Homo sapiens: one gene and its partners. The protein of the gene in region 3 purifies or fractionates together with the protein of the main gene of each other region. This does not show direct contact. Each region holds a gene or a part of one and is shown on either strand. Other genes may lie near its edges.

The links.
Region 1: the proteins of TPPP (region 3) and SPTBN4 purify together in Homo sapiens (affinity purification with mass spectrometry; one large-scale study listed by BioGRID and IntAct). This does not show direct contact.
Region 2: the proteins of TPPP (region 3) and KLHL24 purify together in Homo sapiens (affinity purification with mass spectrometry; one large-scale study listed by BioGRID and IntAct). This does not show direct contact.
Region 4: the proteins of TPPP (region 3) and ACP3 purify together in Homo sapiens (affinity purification with mass spectrometry; one large-scale study listed by BioGRID and IntAct). This does not show direct contact.

Annotation. Positions count from the first base shown.
Region 1 is NC_000019.10:40,553,202-40,558,533, reverse strand, and holds part of SPTBN4 (spectrin beta chain, non-erythrocytic 4), read right to left. Parts: intron 4,388-5,332; coding exon 4,109-4,387; intron 4,019-4,108; coding exon 3,888-4,018; intron 2,451-3,887; coding exon 2,246-2,450; intron 1,512-2,245; coding exon 1,131-1,511; intron 1-1,130.
Region 2 is NC_000003.12:183,645,033-183,650,364, reverse strand, and holds part of KLHL24 (kelch-like protein 24), read right to left. Parts: exon of another isoform or gene 4,479-5,332; intron 70-4,478; 5' UTR 9-69; coding exon 1-8. UniProt on the Homo sapiens protein: Necessary to maintain the balance between intermediate filament stability and degradation, a process that is essential for skin integrity.
Region 3 is NC_000005.10:682,626-687,957, forward strand, and holds part of TPPP (tubulin polymerization-promoting protein), read right to left. Parts: intron 1-5,332.
Region 4 is NC_000003.12:132,329,772-132,335,103, reverse strand, and holds part of ACP3 (prostatic acid phosphatase isoform PAP precursor), read right to left. Parts: intron 3,458-5,332; coding exon 3,371-3,457; intron 2,913-3,370; coding exon 2,760-2,912; intron 1-2,759. UniProt on the Homo sapiens protein: A non-specific tyrosine phosphatase that dephosphorylates a diverse number of substrates under acidic conditions (pH 4-6) including alkyl, aryl, and acyl orthophosphate monoesters and phosphorylated proteins.

The DNA of each region.
Region 1 (5,332 bases), on a different chromosome or scaffold from region 3:
CTGCAGCTTCATTTCCATCTGACTGCTCAGATCCACATCCGAATTCTGGCCAGAACCTCTGCCTAATTTCTAATATCTCTGTTGCCTTTTTCATTAAATTCGCCCCCATCAAATTAATTTCAGAAAAGTCATATGATTTCCATCAGAGACCTGTTATCTAAGTTCTTTTTTTTTTTTGAGATGGAGTCTCACTCTGTCGCCCAGGCTGGAGTGCAGTGGCGCGATCTCGGCTCACTGCAACCTCCGCCTCCCGGGTTCAAGCGATTCTCCTGCCTCAGTCTCCTGTGTAGCTGGGATTACAGGTGCCCGCCACCATTCCTGCTAATTTTTGTATTTTTAGTAGAGACGGGGTTTCATCATGTTGGTCAGACTGGTCTTGAACTCCTGACCTCATGATCTGCCCGCCTCGACCTCCCAAAGTGTTGGGATTACAGGCGTGAGCCACCGCACCTGGCCTTGTCTGTCGTCTAATTTCTATCTACACCACAGCCAAATTCCTCTCAGACTTCTCAAAATTCCCTTTAGACCCTTGATCTGGATTTAGGCAAAACTCACAGTTTTAGGAGAACCACTGCCCAATATCTATTGGAAGCTTTTTTTTTTTTTTTTTTTTTTGAGACAGAGTATCACTCTTGTCACATAGGCTGGAGTGCAATGGCGAGATCTGGGCTCACTGCAACCTCCTCCTCCCGGGTTCAAGTGATTCTCCTGCCTCAGCCTCCCAAGTAGCTGGGATTACAGGTGCCCGCCACCAGACCTGGCTAATTTTCGTATTTTTAGTAGAGATGGGGTTTCACCACGTTGACCAGGCTGGTCTTAAACTCCTGACCTCAGATGATCCGCCTGCGTTGGCCTCCCAAAGGGAGCCACCACGCCCAGCCAGAAGCTGTTTAATATCTGTGAGACCTTCTAAGGTACCACTTTTCCCTGCCAATACCTGATTTCTATATATCATTCCATCAGTCCATTTTCTATCTGCTCCATTATCTAATTTCTTCCTGTTCTGTAGTCCGCTTTCTGTCTGTGCCACTGCCTAATTTCGACCTGCTCCACAGCCTGATTTTTGCCCACTCTGCTGCCCACAGCTGTCCAGGCCCTCCCACCTGCCCTGATGGCCACCGGCGCCCCACCTGGGACACGAGGAGCTGCAGGTCATGCTCAAAGGCTCTCAGGGTCCGCTGCATGGAACTGGCACTGGGTCTCGGCTCAGGCGGGGTGGTCAGGCGGGGCAGCCGCCTCCGCTTCTCCTCAATCTGTCCCTGAAGCTCTCGGGCGTCACTGAAGAACTTATGAAGCTCCCGAGAGGCGGCCAGCAGCTGGGCCCGTGTGCCCATGAGCTCCAGCAGCTCAGCCCAGGCCTCGTTCAGTCCGTCCTTCCACTCGGCCATGGTGGCCGCTGCTGTATGGCCACACTCGATCAGCTCATCCACCATCTGGTTCACAGCTGCCAGCCGTTCCCGCCCTGCCATACCTGTCTCGCTGGCAAACTCTGAGAATTTCTCCTGCAGCACCTGCCATCAGGAAGTGGGGGGGGGGGTACAGCAAAGTGAGCAAAGGGGCAGCATACACCAGCCCCCTCCAGCCTACAATGTTTTTTTTTCTTTTTGATACAGAGTCTTGCTCTGTCGCCCAGGTTGGCGTGCAGTGGTTCAATAGCCACTTACAGCAACCTTCACCTCCCCAGTTCAAGCAATTCTCCTGCCTCAGCCTCCCAAACAGCTAGGACTACAGGCATGTGCCACCACACCCAGCTGATTTTTTTGTGTTTTTAGTAGAGACGGGGTTTCACTATGTTGGCCAGGCTGGTCTCATACTCCTGACCTCAAGTGATCCACCTGCCTTGGCCTCCCAAAGTGTTGGGATTACAGGCATGAGCCACCACACCTGGCAGAGGCTACCATTTTGTGGCAGGTAAGAGTAATGATAATCATCATCATCATCATCATCATAAAAAATAATATCTAACACTTACTGAACACCTGGCAAGAATAGTAACAAAACAGTAACAATAAAAATAACAATAAGTAACAATAAAATAATAAGCTGATAATAATAACCAACACTGTGTGAGGCAGCATGTGTGCCAAGCAGGGTCCTCAGTGCTTTACGTTATATTAACTCATTTGTCTCACAGCAGAGCCATGAGGCGGGTGCTGTTATTATCCTCATACTACAGATGAGGAAACTAAGGCCCAGAGAACCTTAGTGGTAGCTCCTGGTATCACTTATTACTAATGATGCTCACCGAGACATGCTCAAAGTCCTGGCCGAGCTCGGGTGAGCCAGCCACCACCTCCTTCTCGGCAATCCAGTGCTCAAGCTCGCTCACCTGGCGGCTGAGCTGGTACAGCCAGTACTGCTGTTCCAGAGCCACCCGGCGCTCCTCACCCAGCTCCTTGAGCGCCACGTACAGGCGGTCCACCTGAGACTGCCGCCGGCTGATCTGCTCGCTGAAGGGGGACATGGAGGGGCAGGGATGGACCCCTGAGACTTCTGGGGCAGAGCGTGACCCCCCTAAACCCCCTCCCCAGGACAGGGCTGTGTTTCCTTGGAATCTTCAGACACGGCTGTGTCCCCAGGTAGAGCTCTGTTTTCTTTTCTTTTTTCTTTTTTTTTGGAGACAGGGTCTTGCTCTGTTGCTCAGGCTGGAGTGCAGTGGTGTGATCACAACTCACTGCAGCCTCCACCTCCCATGCTCAAGCAATCCTCCCATTGCAGCCTCCCAAGTGGGACCACAGGCACGTGACTCTACACCTGGCTAACTTTTTGATTTCTTTGTAGAGATGAGGTCTCACTATGTTCCCTCTGTTCTCAAACTCCTGGGCTCAAACGATCCTCCTGCCTCAGCCTCCCAGTGTTGAGATTACAGGTGTGAGCCACTACACCTGGCCAGGACTCTGTTTTCTGCAAGTCTTGGGTTCAGAAAGCCCTGCATTTCAGCATGCAGGGAAAGCTCCGCTTCCCTAAATGGATAAGCTCACCTCTATCCAGCCTCACCCAGTTTCCTTTCTTTTTTTTTCTTTTCTTTTTTTTTTTTTTTTTTTGAGACGGAGTCTTGCTCTGTCACCAGGCTGGAGTGCAGTGGCGCGATCTCGGCTCACTGCAACCTCTGCCACCCAGGTTCAAGCCATTCTCCTGCCTCAGCCTCCCCAGTAGCTAGGACTACAGGCACGTGCCACCATGCCCAGCTAATTTTTTATTTTTAGTAGAGACAGGGTTTCACCATGTTGGCCAAGCTGGTCTCCAACTCCTGACCTCAAGTGATCCGCCCACCTCGGCAGCCTCACCCGGTTTCTATCTCAGTCTCACGCCCCTCCTATCCAGGAACCTCGGTGGGACTCTGGACTCCCAGGTTGGGTCCCCAGCCAATGCATCCCACCTCTAGCCCCAATCTCTGAGCCCACTTGGACAGAGGTCTCTCTCTGTACCTCCTTACAGATTCCATCCCTGGTCCAGGCCTGGAGCTCAGCATCCGCCTACACGAGGCAACATCACCCCACTGCACCAGGAGGTCTCCAGCCCCACCGCCATAGCCAATCTCAGCACAGGCTTTTCTGTCCTCCCAGACACTGAGTAGAAAGAGCCCCTTGCCTGTCCTGAGTAAATTCTTCTCTACCCCAGTCCTAGACATCGCCTACTCTTTTCTCCCCCGACAAGGTCCCCACTACTACACTCAAATCCAGGTGCTCCTGGCCCCACCCTCTCAACCATCCCTGAGCCGTGTCCCCCCATTCCGGCCCGCCCACTTGCCAAATTCGAGGGCTCCAGCACACAGCAAGGAGGACCTCTCCCACCCAACGTCCAATTCCAGCGCTGCGCCAACTCCCAACAGCGAAGCTTCAGGTCCTGCTGGACCATTCCTGTGAACTGGCCACGCGCCCGCCCACCTGTCCGGGTGCCCCATCTCCAGCAGCGCCCGGCACTGGCGCGACAGCTGCGCGATGCTTTCCTCGTAGTTCTCCACGCCTTGCTCCAGCTGCAGGTGTTTCTTGAGCAGCTGCAGGGTGCTCTGTTCGTCCTGGGGGCACAAAGCGCCCACGATGAGGCGGCAGCGGCGGCCCCCGGCTCCAGCGCCCCCAGGCCCTCCGCACCCCCAGCTCGGGCGCACCTTGCCCTTGTCCTCACTCATCATGAGCAGCTCCTGCTCGCCCAGCCACGCCTCCACCTCAGCCACGTCGAAGTAGTACTGCTCCACCTGGAAGGCGGCGTCCAGCACCTGCTGCCGTCGCTCGGCAGCCTCCCGCAGTCCGGCCCAGGCGCTCTGCAGCTGCTCCAGGCCCCGGCGCACTGCCTCTGCCTCCGGGCTGCGCAGCGACGCCAGCGCGCCCGCGCGCTCCAGCACCTCCTCCAGGCGCGGCCCATGCGCCTGGATCTCCCGCCGCAGGCCCTGGGGGCAGGAGGTAAGGGGATGTGGGTGGAGAGGGGGCGTTCCGAGGCCCTGCAAGACCACACGCTCCTCTGCTACTGGCACGGCCCACGGGGCAATTAACAAGCACCCCCAGCTCGCTAACCACGTGCCAAGACCATGTAAACATTTTGCTGATACTCCCTCACTCATCATAACCCTATGCTTGCTGCAGGTGGGAAAACAGGCACAGAGGGGCGAAGTACGGCGCCCAAGAACAAGCAGCCAGTAAGGAGTGACAGGATTTGAACACAGGAGGCTGGTTCCAGAGACTGTGCTCTGAGCCAAGCCGCTTGCCGACCCAAGATGGGCCCTAATACAGAAACCCTGCAGCTTAGCAGCCGAGGTATCATTTGTATACGGTAGAGTGCACAAATCTTAGGTATACAGTTGCACACATTTGTACAGACACATACACCGGTGTGCCCAGATCAGCGTGCGGAACACTTCCATCCCCCAGAAGGTTCCCTCAACCAGCTCTGTACTTGCAGAGTACCTTATTTAACGTTTTGTGTGCCTTAACCTTATTTACTTACAGAGTACCTTATTTAACTTTTTGTGAGTCTTTTTTAACTTTTTGTGTGCCTTAACGTTATTTAACTTTTTGTGTGACTCAACTGATAAAGATAATAACAGCCAGCAAGTCCTCTCCTTATTTTGCTTTTTTAGAGACAGGGTGTCACTCTATCACCCAGGATGGAATGCAGCAGCTTTAAACTCCTGGGCTCAAGTGATCCTCCTGCCTCAGCCTCCCAAGCGGCTGGGACTACAGGTGTGCACCACCATGCCCTGCTATTTTAAAAAATATTTTTGGAGAGACGAGGTCTTGCTATGTTACTCAGGCTGGTCTTGAAGTCCTGGCCTCAAGCGATCCTCCTACCTTGGCCTCCCAAAGTGCTAGGCTTATAAGCATGAGCCACTGTGCCC
Region 2 (5,332 bases), on a different chromosome or scaffold from region 3:
AGTACCATTGTTACATCAGTTGACTATATAATTGTTGAGAAATGACTATTAGGGATCTTCTTTATGTGGCTAAAAGTAAAAAAAGGAAAACATTTCAATATGCAAAAAATTCAGTATTCAAATCACATAATTTCATTTTAATATAAACACTACAACAAAATCACATAATATATTTCATATAGGGTACACAGCACTATCTCATGTTAATAAAAACTAATCAACAAAAATTTGCATTTGAACAATTAGAACATTGGGGTAATTTGCAATAGTACTCCTTAAGCTCCCCTTTTCTAGCTGAAAGGATACTATGTACTTCGTGAGTTACTAATAACCTTCCGTTTCCTCCCCATTTACAGAGCTGAGTTTCATACTATTGACTGTAGAGTTAAGTCAGAATGGTGTAAGACACAATTTGACTACAGTTAGAATTCTAACAGTTATCTTTCTTTTTAAGAATCTTTTTTATTTTGAGACAGGGTCTCACTCTGTCACCAAGTTTGGAGTAAAGTGACATGATCATAGCTCACTGTAACCTCAAACTCCTAGGCTCAAGCGATCTTCCTGCCTCAGCCTCCTGAGTAGCTGTGACTATGTGTGCGTACCACCATGCCTGGCTATTTTTTTTTTTACTTTTTGTAGAGATGGGATCTTGAACTCCTGGCCTCAAGCGATCCTCTCACCTCAGCCTCTCAAAGTACTGGGATTACAGGCATGAGCCACCATGCCTGGTGAAATAATTATTATCTTAATATAGAATTCCTAGAGAGGAATTTAGCTATATCTATCAATAGCCTTTAAAAATATGTACATTGTTTGACCAGCAAGTCCTTTTTTTTTTTTTAGCACTCTCTCCTAAGGAAATAATCAGAATTATGTCGACAGATTTATCTATGCAGATGTCCAATGCTGTATTGATAGAAAATACTCAAAATAACCTAAATGCCCTATAAGAGGGGATTGGTCAAACCACAGTACATCTTCTGGCTAGAACAAAGTCTATGCAACCATTAAAAATTATATATGACTATTTAACGACATGGGGAAGTAGTAACCACACAGTAAGTGAAAAAGTAGATCACAAAACATATGCCAACAGAAAAAATAATGTATCTGTGAATCTAGGGATAGGATGTACATATGCTAAAATGTTTTATTTATCTTCTCTATTTTCTACCAAAATTTCTATTATAAAATTTAATATTCATTTAAAAAAATTTCATGCATGTTATCTAGGTCTTGTTCCCTTTCACTAATAAGAAACATCCCAAAACCCCCTCAGAAATGACTTTCAGTAAGTAACTGATGGATTGAGGCACTTGGCTATAGCCATCAATTCTCTCTCTGTGTCTCTTTTTTTTTTTGGAAACAAGGTCTCATTCTGTCACCCAGGCTGAAGTGCAATGGCGCGATCTTGACTCACTGCAATCTCCACCTCCTAGGTTCAAGGGATTCTGCTACCTCAGCCTCCCGAGTAGCTGGGACTACAGGCACGTACCCACCACACCCGGCTAATTTTTGTATTTTTGGTAGAGAAGGGGTTTTGCCATGTTGCCCAGGCTGGTCTTGAACTCCTGGCCTCAAGGGATCTGCCCACCTTGGCCTCCCAAAGTGCTGGAATTATAGGTATGAGGCATGGTGCCCAGCCCAATTCTCTTTAAGGTTAATTTTAAGGCGATTCTTCTACTCCCTTTCCACATCTTCAGAAGCTGATACATGATTCAAAGTGTATTAGTAATTGGTTTAAGATCACTCAGGGTACCTCATCTATTGCCATACTCTCAGAATTTCATACACATCCCTTCTACCATTCCCAACTTCTTGAAATATTTCAAGTCAGACATTCAGGCCTAAGACTGGCAAGCAAAAAGAAGTCAGCTAAAGGATGTCACAGATAATATAATCTAAAAAATGAGATGCCATCCTACATTCGCAAGCCACAAATAAAACTGAGACTTGAAAGTTAACATCTTAAGGCTGCATTTTGTGTACCCTGTCGCATATTAAATTGTACCCCACTTTTTAAGTGACACAAAGGGAAATAAAATACGTAACATCAAAATCAAGAAGCAACTCATTCTCTTATATATAGTATTCTCTTCTTTTTCATGTTCCTATTTATCTCCATCCTCTCTTCTCACTCTAATGCCCCAGATATCCTACTTCCAATATTCACTAGATACTTGCAATTTTCATGAATTCTCTCACTGAATTTACTTAATATTGCAGCTTTTACCATCATCATCATCAACAAATATTTATTATATGCCCACTATTGTCACGATACTGTACTAGGCCTAGGGTTTACAGAGATGTAAGATATTGCTATTGGAGTTTTTTGTTTTTGTTTTTGCTTTTTTGAGACAGGGTCTCCTTGTGTTGCCCAGGCTGGAGAGTACAGTGCCATGACCTCGGCTCACTGCAACCTCTGCCTCCCGGGTTCAAGCGATTTTCGTGCCTCAGCCTCCCGAGTAACTGGGATTACAGGCGCATGCCACCGCGCCTGGCTAATTTTTGTACTTTTTTTAGTAGAGACAGGTTTTGCCATGTTAGCTAGGCTGGTCTTGAACTCCTGAGCTCAAGCAATTCTCCTGCCTTGGCCTCCCAAAGTGCTGGGATTACAGGCGTGAGCCACTGCGCTCAGCCTGTTATGTTTTGTTTTGTTTCAGATGCTCTGTTGCCAGGCTGGAGTGTAGTGGCGCCATCTTGGCTCACTGTAACCTCCACCTCCCAGGCTCAAGTGATTCTCCTGCTTCAGCCTCCCAAGTAGCTGGGACTACAGGCACGCGCCAGCACGCCTGGATAATTTTTTGTATTTTAGTAGAGACGGGGTTTCACCATGTTGACCAGGATGGTCTAAATCTCCTGACCTCGTGATCCACCCGCCTCAGCTTCCCCAAGTGCTGGGATTACAGGCGTAATCCTTTTCATTTTTTATTTTTTAATTTTTTTTGAGACGGAGTCTCGCTCTGTCGCCAGGCTGGAGTGCAGTGGCACGATCTCAGCTCACTGCAACCTCCACCTCCCAGGTTCAAGCGATTCTCCTGCCTCAGCCTCCTGAGTAACTGGAACTACAGGCGTGCACCACCACACCCAGCTAACTTTTATATTCTTAGTAGAGATGACGTTTCACCATGTTGGGCAGGATGGTCTCAATATGACCTCGTGATCCACCCGCCTTGTCCTCCCAAAGTGCTAGGATTACAGGCATAAGCCACTGCGCCCAGCTTTTTTTTTTTTTTTAAGAGTTGCAACAAGGCCGGGCGCGGTGGCTGACGCCTGCAATCCCAGCACTTTGGAAGACCGAGGCGGGTGGATCACAAGGTCAGGAAATCGAGACCATCCTAGCTAACAGTGAAACCCCGTCTCTACTAAAAAAAAAAAAAAAAAATTAGCTGGGCGTGGTGGCAGGCGCCTGTAGTCCCAGCTACTTGGGAGGCTGAGACAGGAGAATGGCGTGAACCTGGGAGGTGGAGCTTGCAGTGAGCCTAGATCGCGCCACTGCACTCCAGCCTGGGTGACAGAGCGAGACTCCATCAAAAAAACAACAAAAAAGAGTTGCAATAAAACATATTCAAACAACATAAATAATAACATAAAGTAGCACAGACAATATGTCCCATTGGTACAGACAGCCTAGTTCCTCCTTAAACTTCTATTACATTTTAAAAATTCTCTTCATATCAATTAGCACTTAACCTTCCTGAAGCCTAGGTGATAGGATTTTCTCTGGACAGATATATGCCAGGTTATTCTGACCATTCAGGGAAAAATACCTGGCTATAACAACATCTGAAGGACACCTAAATGCTTGCATGCTATACAGGATCTTTTCTGTTTCTCTGTCTATCCCCCAAATGTGCAGGTAAAGTCAGAAAAAATCCAAGCAATTTTATCAGTCAAATGGAATAAAGACTAAAGTGAAATAAATAATATTTTCATTTGAAATCACTAGGGTGGAGAGTCAGAGGCAGTATGTTGATTTTTTTTTTTTTTTTTTTTTTTTGAGATGGAGTCTTGTTCTGTCACCCAGGCTGGAGTGCAGTGGCACAATCTCGGCTCACTGCAACCTCCACCTCCCAGGTTCAAGCTATTCTCCTGCCTCAGCTGTCCAAGCGGGTGGGACTACAGGCACATGCCACCATGCCGGGCTAATTTTTGTACTTTTGGAAGAGACGGGGTTTCACCATGTTGGCCAGGCTGGTCTTGAACTGACCTCAAGTGGTCCATCTGCCTCAGCCTCCCAGAGTGCTGGGATTACAGGCATAAGCCACCACACCTGGCCACCCTCATTTCTAAGTTAAAAAAAAAACAAAACAAAAAACCCAGAAAATTTCAAATGTACAAATATACATGCATTTTCTAAATACATAACAAAGCTTTGTGATGTAATATAATAGTTATGGCAATGGAAGCTCATGGAGAAGGCCTATTTAAATGAACACATATAAAAGTAAAGATAAACACAAGACAATGCTTACCAATGGCTGGTTTCGGAGTAAATGTCAACAAAGTAACTCCCACAAATTTAGTTAGGAAAATTAGTTTCTCTTAAATTTGAGGAAATATTTTCCTCTACATGTATGTTATGGTCCAAACAAGCTAGATTTTTAACTTCGACCCAATTATGTTTTGCAGATTTTAGGTAACAGACTTGCCTGAGAACAAATAAAAGCTCTATTTCATTTTATTAATTTTAATACCTAAATGAATAAAAATATATCTGAGTTTAAAATATTTTATTAGTTTTAAAATTTATTATCACTAACTAAAAAAAAATGGATTTCTTCCCATCTCTTTTAAGATTTTTCTGATTACTCAGAGTTCATGTTTGCTTCATTATACGTCACCCAACTTGGGTTACAGTTGCCCATATATTTGTGTGGATGTCTGGATGCATGTGCATACACACAGCTTAACATTTACAACTCCATTTACAATGCATAGAATGACTTCCAAATTCCAGGCTCCCACACATGAGCAGTAGCGTATCTATCAAATATGCTTTTAATTTGAAGTTATCTCAATAACCATTTTATAAACAGAAATGTATCCCCCATATCAAGAGAGATCACTACTGTACCTGAATGTCAATTTTTTGTTGTTGGTGAAACTTCAAAAAGTTCAATGTATGTAATATCACAAGTAATTAAAAAAGGGAACATTTCAATTATGATAAACATAAACTGTGATGACATGGAATATAACTCATATTTTAATCTTAATGCCTTATTAATCTAGATTCAAATTATGGTTGAATTAGCTACAAGTCAGGTACCCAAATCAAGAACCTACTATTCATTCCAGCTTAATCTAGTTTAAATTCCTGTTGCAT
Region 3 (5,332 bases):
GCGCCAGGGGTCTGCCCCTTGGGCCTGGAGCCTGTAACTAGGGCCTGGGGTCTCTCTCACTAGGGCCAGCTGCTGTTTTAAAGGTAGCAGCAGCCTCGGTGCTCCCTTGTTCACTGCCCACGCCCACGCGGGGGTGGCGCCGACAGAGCCTACACGACTGCTCTCCATGTGGATGGCTGTGGGGTGGCTGAGCCTTGCTGGCAGAGGAGGCTGGTGGACAGGCTGTGCTCACATCATCAGCAGTGCTGGGTCAAAGCTGGAGGCAGGAGCCATGGAGTCAGTGGGAGCTACCACCCCTCAGCTCATCACCCCTCCCTGGGGCCTGAGACCTCAGAGCCAGCCCTCGGCCCTGCTCAGGCTCTGGCCTCCCTGAGAACCTCTGTCCTGGTCACAAGTGTCCTGCAGGCCCCCTGGGTTGTGCTGGGCTGGACCAGGCCAGGGTGTGACCTCTGACAGCTCCACCTGCCCTAGAGAAGCCACCAGCAGCTTCTCCAGCTGCACCCGCTGACCCCCAGAGCTCGCTCGCAGGCAAGTGCCCATGGTAGGACAGCTGCTTGTGCCTCAGTCTCCTCATCCTTGAAGGGGTGCAGCCCCCTCCCCATCTCCCTCGCACCCGATGGCCTCATGCAGGCACAGCCCGAGGGAGAACCTGTCTCTGCGGAGAAAGACACTCTGATGGCAGCCGACTGGATTCCACCAGAACCCGAGGGCAAGCATTCCTTGGGAAGTGACCAGGCTGGGAGCATCAGGCACGCACGCCACACACTCAACCCAAACCTTCTGTTAACTCAGGTTCCCAGGAGCCCCGCGTGCTTCTGCCTGGCAGGAGCCGATGCTCGTGCCCTGGAGAACTCCCTGTTCAGGGATGACAATGGGTTCCCTGGTGATTTGGAGGCCTGGGGCCTGGGTGGGAGCTGCTCCCTCTACCCCTGGAGACACTGCCCAGGAATCCAACGTGCTGTGACTGCAGGATGCCCCTGGCAGGGGCCATGCTGGCTCAGACGCCTCTCACCAACCCCTTCCTTCCATGCCCTCAGGGCACTGGCATCCAGGGAGCTGTGAAGGGCACGCTGTGTTGCAAGCTGATTGGGAAACAGGTTGGAGGGGTGGGGGCCGAGGCGCTCAGCAGTATTCAGGCATCTCTCAGCTGGCGACAGGAGCTGTCCCAGGCCCTGCAGGTGGGAGTGCATGCTGGGCAACCTTGGCGGTCCCTGGTCTTCTCTCCATGGGCAGATTCCCCTGCGGATACCCCGGCCTCCACAGGCTCAGCTGGGTGTGCTGCCGCTGGGCTCTTCAGAACCTTTACGCCCAAGTCCTGTCCAGGGGGAGCACCCTCCACCTCGGGCCGGCTGCCATCACAGCCTTCAATCCTGCCCAGAGTCCCTGGAGACTGTTGTCATTAAACCCCACTCCTGTTTAGGAAACCCCAGGGCCAGACCCCACTGCCGGAACAGGACCCTCTCGTGCCTGCAGATGGCAAAGCTCCTGAGGGCCTGATGGACCCTCCAATGTCCCACGGCCACAGTTTCCACCTTGACGCCGAAGCCCTGGGATGGCCCCTCTGCAACGCCCAGTGCTCCATCATGACCTGGCCCCAGGACGCTGACTGAGGGAGCGGAGGGGATCGGGACCAGGGGGAAGCAGCCCCCCAGTAAATCCGAAGCACAGGCACGGCACAGCCCCAAGGGAGACCTTGTAGGCGCCTGGCCAGCAGGGCTGAGGAGAAAGTCTCCACTGCAGGGCGCCTCCTGGGCCCACGCCGTGTGGTCCTGGCCCCAAGCTGCCCACTGGGCATTCAGCCTGGACAGCTCTCGGCGCTGGAGACCCAGAGGACAAGGGGACAGCAACATCAAAGACCACAGCGACCCGAAGCCCCAGAAGCAAAAGCCACTCTCACAGCGGAAGGAGTGGACAGAGCCCCTGTGGAGCTCACCCAGCCCTCCTGTCCCACCAAGGGGCCTTCTAGGACCTGGAGCCCTGCCCTCCTGCCGAGGAGGTGCTTCCCCATTAAACAGGGCCAAGGAACAAGGTGGCTCAGGTCCTGCCATGCCCAGGGTGGACACCGTGCCACCCCGCCAGCCCCCACTCCTTATTTCAGTGCCCATTTGAGCGCAGACGGTTCCTGTTTTTCATTATCATCGCACGGCACTCCTGCTCCGCGGGACTCTCCCTGTGAACCGCCCCACTCTTCTCAGCCCAGGCCGCCTGTCAGGCAGTCAGAGCTCCCAATCAGAACAAAGCCGGCAGTTTTGAGTCTGTGCACATCCCCCTGCAGCACAGGAGGCAGGATGATCAGCCGCTCCAGCCCAGCATCCCCACGGCACACTCGGGAGCACACCCCACCCAGAGGCCAGACAGGTGCACACGGCCGGGGCCGCCCCAGGACACACGTCCAGAGAGGTCACAGTCCTGAAAGGTCACGGTCCTGAGAGGTCACCATCCTGAGAGGTGCCCGGTCCAGAGAGGTCACTGGTCCTGAGAGGTCACTGTCCTGAGGGGTCACTGGTCCAGAGGTCATCACTCTTGAGAGTCACTGGTTGATCCTGAGAGGTCACTGGTCCAGAGGGATCGCTAGGATGGGGTCTCCAGGCCTGGGCTGAGGCTCTGCCCCATAGAAGACCTGAGGTCGGGCTCCTGCTCTCCAGGGACCCTGAAGGCCAGAGCCAAGCCCAGGCTGAGTGCAGTCCCCAAGGAAGTGGGAGGAGGAGGGCAGGGTGGAGTCCTGTGGCAGCGTCCCCAGCACACCACACTTCTATCCTGGTCGTCTCACATGGCGTCCTCCGGCCATCCTGCACTGGGCCACTCGGGACCCCTGCCACTCACCACAACCGCATGGCCTCAGACCTGGGCAGGACAGGGCAGGCTTTGCACACTCCTAAGGCTCATGGGGTGGGAGGGGCCCTGCACAAGGAGCCTTCCGGTAAGGGGGGCAGGGGAGCAGGGGCTGCATGGCCCTGGCCACCTCCACTCACCCTCCCTCCGCCCTCAGAAGAAGAGAGATGGCTGCGGAGGAGCTTCTCGGGTCAACAGGGTGCACCCAGCCCCTGGTGCCCTCTGCCTCTGGGAACCACATCTTGGCCCCCATCTGCAGAGTGTGGTCCTTGCAGCGCCCAGCGTGGCCACTCTGGGGACGGCCACCAGAGCCCATCTGCACTCAGGTGTAGGGATGAGAAGGCGGGGCAGTCTCAGAGAAAACCCTCCCAGGCCACACGGCAGATCCCCTCTGAGTGGGAGACTCAGGATTAAGGATGACAGGGAGACGCAGGTGGGAGGATGGAACATTCCAGAGCACTATGGCTGAGTATCCAGGCCACAGACGCCGGGGCTGCCAGGGCCACCAACTTTGCCACCGAATGGCCACCATGGGATGGAGGTGCCAACAGGGCTCCCGGACTCTGCAAAGGACGCTGTGGCGGAGACTGATACGGGTCTGAGATGGCTGTCCAAGGCCCAAGTGAGAGTTAAACCACATGCCCAGCCAGTGCCCACCACCTGGGCCAACACCATTTCTCTAAAGCACGACACAGGACATTCCACCAACAGAGCATCCCAAAAGGGAATAAAATAGAGATCCCGGCTGGCTCATCCCATCAACCATGTCGGAGACTCGGCGGCTGCAGATGCGGTGGGACCTGCCTCCATTAAAGGCACCTTCTGTGGGGACAGCAAGGACTCTCACGCGGGGCACACCAGGTTAGAGGACACAGCCGGGGCTCTCAAGGGAGGCACAATGGGTTACAGGAGAAAACAGCCGAGGCTCTCAAGGGGGCAGAGCAGGTTACAGAACACTGCAGAACCAGGGGCTGGTCCCTCATCCAGCGCAGCTTCACTGAGTGCCAGACTCACGAGGACCCTGCCCTGCCCCGCCCCAGCCCACTCACTGCCCTTGGGTTACCCTCGGGGCTCCGGGTCCAGGGCACCTGCAGGCAGCTGGAACCAGGGCAGCTCTGGGCCAATGGTGGCCCCATCTAATCCCCAGAACCTGTGAACGCGACCTTGTTTGGAGAAAGGATCTGGAAATGAGATCATCTTGGATTATCCACAGCTGAGCCCTAAATCCAATGGTGAGTGTCTCTACCTAGAAGAGGCAGAAGAGAAGACACAGAGAGAAGAGAAGAAGGTGCTACAGGCTGAATTCGTCCCCTCCAAAATCCACACTGGAACCTAATCCCCATTGTGGTGGCATTAACAGAGCCTTTGGGGGATGAGATTCAGCTATGGGGGCCAGGCTCCTGGGAATGACCGAGTGCCTTATCAAAGGGCTGGGGCATGAGGACATGGCAACCAGGCCCTGTCTTGGAAGCAGGGAAGGGCCCTTGTCGGACGCCAAGCCTGCAGGTGCCTTGATCTTGGACTCTCCAGCCCCCAGAACTGTGAGAAGTGAACATATCATTTCATAAATTACCATGCCTGGTGCTGTTACAGCAACACACACGGACTAACACAGTCGCCATGAGGCCGGGGCTGCAGTGACGCAGCCACACGCCCAGGACAACTGGAGCCACCAGAAGCTAGAAGAGGCAGGGAGCGTCCCACCAAGCCTCCAGAGGAAGCTGACTCATGAGATGCCTGGACGCTGGGCTTCTGGTCTCCAGGAGGATGGGGGAATGCGTCCCTGTTGTGTTAACCCCGGACTGTGTCAATTGTCAGAAGCCTCTGGACACAGTGACACAGCGGGTGGGACCAGAGGCTCAGCACCCCTCATGGGGAACAAAGTCTTTGAGGCCCTCAGGTGGCACTGAGAGACCACAGGGGGCTCCAGAGGCCCTTGGGGGTCCACCTAAGCCAGGATGGGTGTTAGGCCAGGGCTGCCAACAGCACCTGCCTTCTGAGACACATCCAGCCTCTGGTTGCCCATTTTTAGGTGGAGAAAATGAAGGCTGCATACGTGGCTGGTGTGAGGAAGTCAGCTGACGGGAATTTGCTGATTTAAGGGAAGGTTCAGCTGCGTCTGCATGCTAAAGGGCTGTCCTCCAGATCAGATCTAGAAGCTTTGGGAAGGTAATGCAAAAGAATTTCTGATGTTCTTGGCGTGGGGGAAATTTGTTACACGGACACAGAAAGCCTTGTCCTGCAGGAAAAGATTCTTAGAAGGCACCAGATTAAAAGAAAGAACTTCTGTTCGTTGAAAAAATATCATCAAGAGAGTGAAAAAGCAAACCCCAGGGTAGGAGATGTTTGCTATGCACAACAAATGTTGGCTTGTCTCCAGAATATATAAAGAACCTCTACAAATCGATAGGAACTCAATCCACAAAGGGCAGCTGACTTGAACAGGCCCCTCGGGGACGAGGGTATCCAAGTGCCCAGTGCTCGGTGGGAAGCACTCAGC
Region 4 (5,332 bases), on a different chromosome or scaffold from region 3:
GGCCTGGAATTTAATTAATTACTTTCTGGATGTTAGTTTTTTCATCCACAAATTGAGTCAGGCTGAAAATAAACAGAATAATCACCGAGACATCTGTCCAGAATTTTGCAGTTTATGGTGTTTTCCATTTTTTAACTAACTTGACTTTCACAAATCCCTAAGAAGAAGTTAGGTGGGTGCTATTTTCCCATGTTACAGAAAGGAAACTGAGGTTTACGGAGGTTACTCAAGGTCATATATCTGAAGTGGTAGTTGGATGTAGGTTTTCCAACTTCAAATTCAGCCCTCCTTCTAACATCACACTGCCTTTCTTTCAACTCAAGATTCCTCCTGGCTATTAAATTTGGATTATCTAATCTGTGTCCAATATAATCAATTTTATTTTCATTCTCTTTCTAAATATGAACTCTGGGCACAGAAGAACTGGCATTCTACATATTCACTCATGGTCGTGTTTTTGTGCTGCCTTCCTCTCCTTCCTCCCTCTCCTCTGAGGTCTGGTTCAAGTTCTCACTCTCTTTATGAAGACCTGAACGACGGCCCTGTGGTAACTGCACGTAAGTCTCATTCTCTGACTTCACCCAGCATATGTGGCTTGTACTTGAAATTATTGCCCGCCATCTTATAATGTCTTCTACACATTTCACACATGCTAATTTGCTTTCATCAAACTATAAATTAGAAAAACTTCGCCTCCTATTTCTCTACAGCATTCAGCACAGCTAAATGCTAGGAATAAGCTAGTGTTGATTGGTTTCATTAGATTTCTTAGTTGATATGAGAGAATTTTTTTGACCTTAGTGAATCAGATAGATGGAAGCCATAGGTAGATAATGTTCCTTGCTTCTCTCTTTCTCTCCCTCACTCTCCCTGTTTCTTTCCTCCTCTTCTACTAGCACCTGCATTCTCTTTCTGTGTAACTTAATTACTATCATTCAGGATTAATTGTTAAATAGCTGTTGTGGTCTACATTTTGCTAAATTTTGGTGCTGCTATCCAGTCTTTGTTTTGTTTTGTTTTTTATTTATTTTTGAGACGGAATTTCGCTCTTGTTGCCCAAGCTGGAGTGCAACGGTGCGATCTTGGCTCACTGCAACCTCCACCTCCCAGGTTTAAGTGATTCTCCTGCCTCAGCCTCCTGAGTAGCTGGGATTACAGGCGTGCACCACCATGCCCAGCTAATATTTGTATTTTTAGTAGAAATGGGGTTTCACCATGTTAGCCAGGCTGGTCTCGAACTCCTGACCTCAGGTGATCTGCCCGCCTCAGCCTTCCAAAGTGCTGGGATTACAGGCATGAGCCACCGCACCTGACCTCCAGTCTTTATCTCTGCAGAAAAGGCTGGTAAAGTGATTTTTTTTCTTTTTGGAATAAAATATTCACAAATGCTTAACACTGGTAATCACAATACTTCCCTCATGATTCTGTGAAGGAAAAGAGATGTAAATGAATCATCCTGTCTTTTCAAGAAACAGCAGAAAAATGGTTGGAGTAGATTTAACTCCAGTGACTTTCTACACAGCATTTGGGAAAAATCCCTAAGTCCCTAGATGCAGCAATTAAGTCAAATTTCTAGGGGTACTGGCAGGACAAAGAGGATAGTAACCTACCCCAGAGGTCACTGGGCAAAAGTCTGGGTCCAGCAGTCAGGCTAAGCTTCAGCCATAAAGAGATGCGATGGTCATGCCTATGATGGGACTGCAGGGAAATTAGGAAGGGATTCTTTGTCCCAAACTATTTCTTTCATATAGCCTTAAGTTTCACACCTGGAAGATTAGTTAGATTTATCTATTGCTACTTTAAAAATACCCATTCCTCTGAAAAGATTAAAGAAAGCTTGGTCGGTCCCAACCTGTGTAAACACGTTTGAGAGTTTCTCTCAAACAGCCCCATTCAGGCAGCTTAGTTTATAGTACTGGTTCTCAAACTTGCCTCCCCACTGGAATCATCGAGGGAGATTATTTTTCAAACACTGATGCCTGGGTCCACCCTCAGACATTCCGATTTCTTACGGAGAGTGCCCTGGGCATCAGGATTTTTTTTAAAAAACCACGTGATCCTAATATGCAGCTAAGTCTGAGAATCATGATTTTATAGGGAAGAAAATTGCTCTGGAATGAAATAGGCCTAGTTTTAATCCCAGAGTGATGCTTGCCAGCAGTGTTGCTTTGGACCAATTTGTTTGTTATTTAACCTCTCCAAGCACTTATTTCCCTCACTATAAAAGGAGAGCAAGAATATTGTCCATTCAGAGTTGTTATGAAAGGTAACACAATGATTCACATAAAATGTTAGGCAATGATTATGCACTCAAATCTTTTTTTCTCTACCTAGGAATGTGGATTTTCATGAGTGGAGGAGTGTTTGGTGGTATAAATATCTTTGGATAATCTGGAGAGTGGAGAAACCTGTTTGGGGCACCAAAAGCCTGGGAATTAAGGCAGAACACTGGGGGACTTGTCTATCTCCCTCTCCCTCTCTCTCTCTCTCTGTGTATGACGATGAGGGGGCAAATTGCCAAGAGTTGCAAGAGTGGCAAAACAAAGTGGATCATACAGATCCAAAGAGAAATTTGGTTCCTACTCTCTCTTAGCTAGGGTTTTCCATGTCCTAAATTGTCCTTTGTATCTTTATTTAAGAAAGAATTAAAACTGCACAGCTCAAGGAGTGTCCAGACTCCCAAATCCACAACTGTTGAGTAGCCTGCCTTCCTCATTCTAGGTCCATCTGAAATCTCCTGGTTTTCCCAGTATACTGACCTGATCTTCAGAAAGAGGAACTGTGTGCACCGGGATGGGCTGCCAGAGTAGGATAGGATTCCAGATGCTGACACCTTCTGGGGGAAACAGGGCTGCCAGGTTTGTCATAGCACTCATCAAAGTCCGGTCAACGTCTGTGCTTCGAATATAAACCTAGAGTAGGAAAATCAAAGCAGAAGCGAACGTAAAGGGAGCATGAGGTTTTTTTCTACAGAGCTGCCAAGGTATTAGAGAAAGGAAAGGACACCCACAGTGAAATATTACAGACATTGTGCTAACATCAGAATCATAATACTTGTTAAGGAATGAGCAATATTATGATCATGGTACAAAGCAACCTGGTTGGCCAATAGTTGAATTGACAAATGAGATCAATTAAGCAGTGGCTACTTGTCAAGCCAAAGTATTTATTCAGGTGTTCATAAAATCTTGAAATTACTCATATTCACAAACTTTTTGGAACAAAAATTTGCATAAAGAGGAATATATTTGTAAACAAGACCTCTGACTTGTATAAGTTCCTTGGAAAACAGGCAAAGCACTTTTATATATGCAGAATTATTTTAATTATTTCAAAGATCAAAGTTCCCACTCTTGGCTCCCCAACTTGCCTGTTCATGTTTATAGGACTCATTCAAGAATTTTCTATATCTCTTTCTTATATACTCTCCAAGTTCATAATGCTGCTCCATGCCCAGCTATGGGAAAAAAATAAAAGCAAAAATTAATGAAAGTAAGTTCTATGAATCACACTATCATAAAAATTTGTTGATTTTTTTTTTCATTATGTGTGTAGAATGAACAATGGTGTGGTTTAATAGTTCCACAATAATGACACATATTTAAGTGAAAACAAAAGAGCTGTACTCTTTAGTTACAGTTCCCTGACTCCCTGAGAAAACTCATTTATCTTCATTAGCACTTAACATAGAGACTTGCACATAGTAAGTGCTTAGTTGATAGTTGGGTGATTGATCTGATTTAAGTAAATGGTTCATCTCTGATGTAGTGGGATCCTTGTTGGTAGAGCATTCAAAGAGACCCACTTGGTGGGGATTTTGTGGAAGAAGCTCAACCATCTGATGAGATTAGACTCGATGAATCTGAAAGTCTCTTTCAACCTCTGTGGGCAATGCTTTACTATCTGCCCAGTTTATTAATTCCTGGTTCATAAAAAAATTAGAACATGTTACTCTAAGTGTGGTCTGTATTGGCTTCACTTAAAAGCATTATAGAAATCAAATTCTTGGGCCCCACCCTTGACCTACTGAACCAGAACCTTTGGGGGTGGTGCTCAAGAATATTTTTTAACAAGCTTCTGATGGACAGTAATCACTGAGATGCACTGCATTAGCTCAGTGGTCCACAACCATTACCGTGCATCAGAAACAAAATTATCCAGCGGTGCATGTTGAAATGCAGATTCCTCAGCATCTCCATCAGAGATTCCAGCTCATTAGTTCCTGAGTGGGGCCCTGACATCTGCATTTTAACAAGTCTCCCAAGTGATTCAGATGCATGTAGTAGAGCACCATGCTTTGGAAATGCAGCATTCAAGTTTGTCTTTAATCCAGAGCCTTACTAGAGCTTTGGGAGCCAGAGAGGAGGTTGTTACGGTGGCTGCTGCTTGGTCCCACTTGTCATTTGCTTGTCACACTTGTCATTTGCTTGACCACCACTATAATCACTTCCCATCTACGATAGGGACAAGGTGGGAAAGGAATAATATACCGTGACCTGAGTAGCGGAGAAGCAGGTACTTTAGGTCTAATTGTGTTCTTACAGCTGACTTTTTAAATAGTCGTCTGTATGAAGCAGTGATTTTCACACTTTAGCATGCACAGAATCACCTGGAGGACTCAATAAAACACAGACTTCTGGGCTTTAATTCCAAAGTTTATGGTTCACTGGGTATTGCGTGAAGAATTTACATTACTGAGAAGTTCCCACGTGATGGTGATGCTGCTGGTCCAGGGACCACACTTTAAAAACCACTGATCTAGACAGCCATCATCTTATGATTATGCAGATTAAAAATACCTAGACAAGGCAGATTAAAAGTACCTAGACACTGATCTAGACAGCCATCATCTTATGATTATGTAGATTTAAAGTACCTAGACAAGGCTGGGTGTGGTGGCTCAGGCCTGAAATTCTAGCACTTTGGGAGGCCAAGGCGGGTGGATTGCCTGAGCTCAGGAGTTTGAGACCAGCCTTGGCAACATGGCGAAACCCCATCTCTACTAAAAATATAAAAAATTAGCCAGGCGTGGTGGTGCTCTCCTGTAGTTCCAGCTACTTGGGAGGCTGAGGCACGAGAATTGCTTGAATCTGGGAGGCAGAGGCTGCAGTGAGCTGAGATCGAGCCACTGCACTCCAGCCTGCGGGGACAGAGTGAGACTCCATCTCAAAAAAAAAAAAAAAAAAAAAAGTACCTAGACAAGGGTAGGAATCTGAGCCCTAGAACCTTGTCACTTCAAATGTGGTCCATGTACCAGTGCCATTGTCATCCTTGGGAGTATGTTAGACATGCAGAATCGCAGGTCCCACATCAGACCTGCTGAATTAGAATC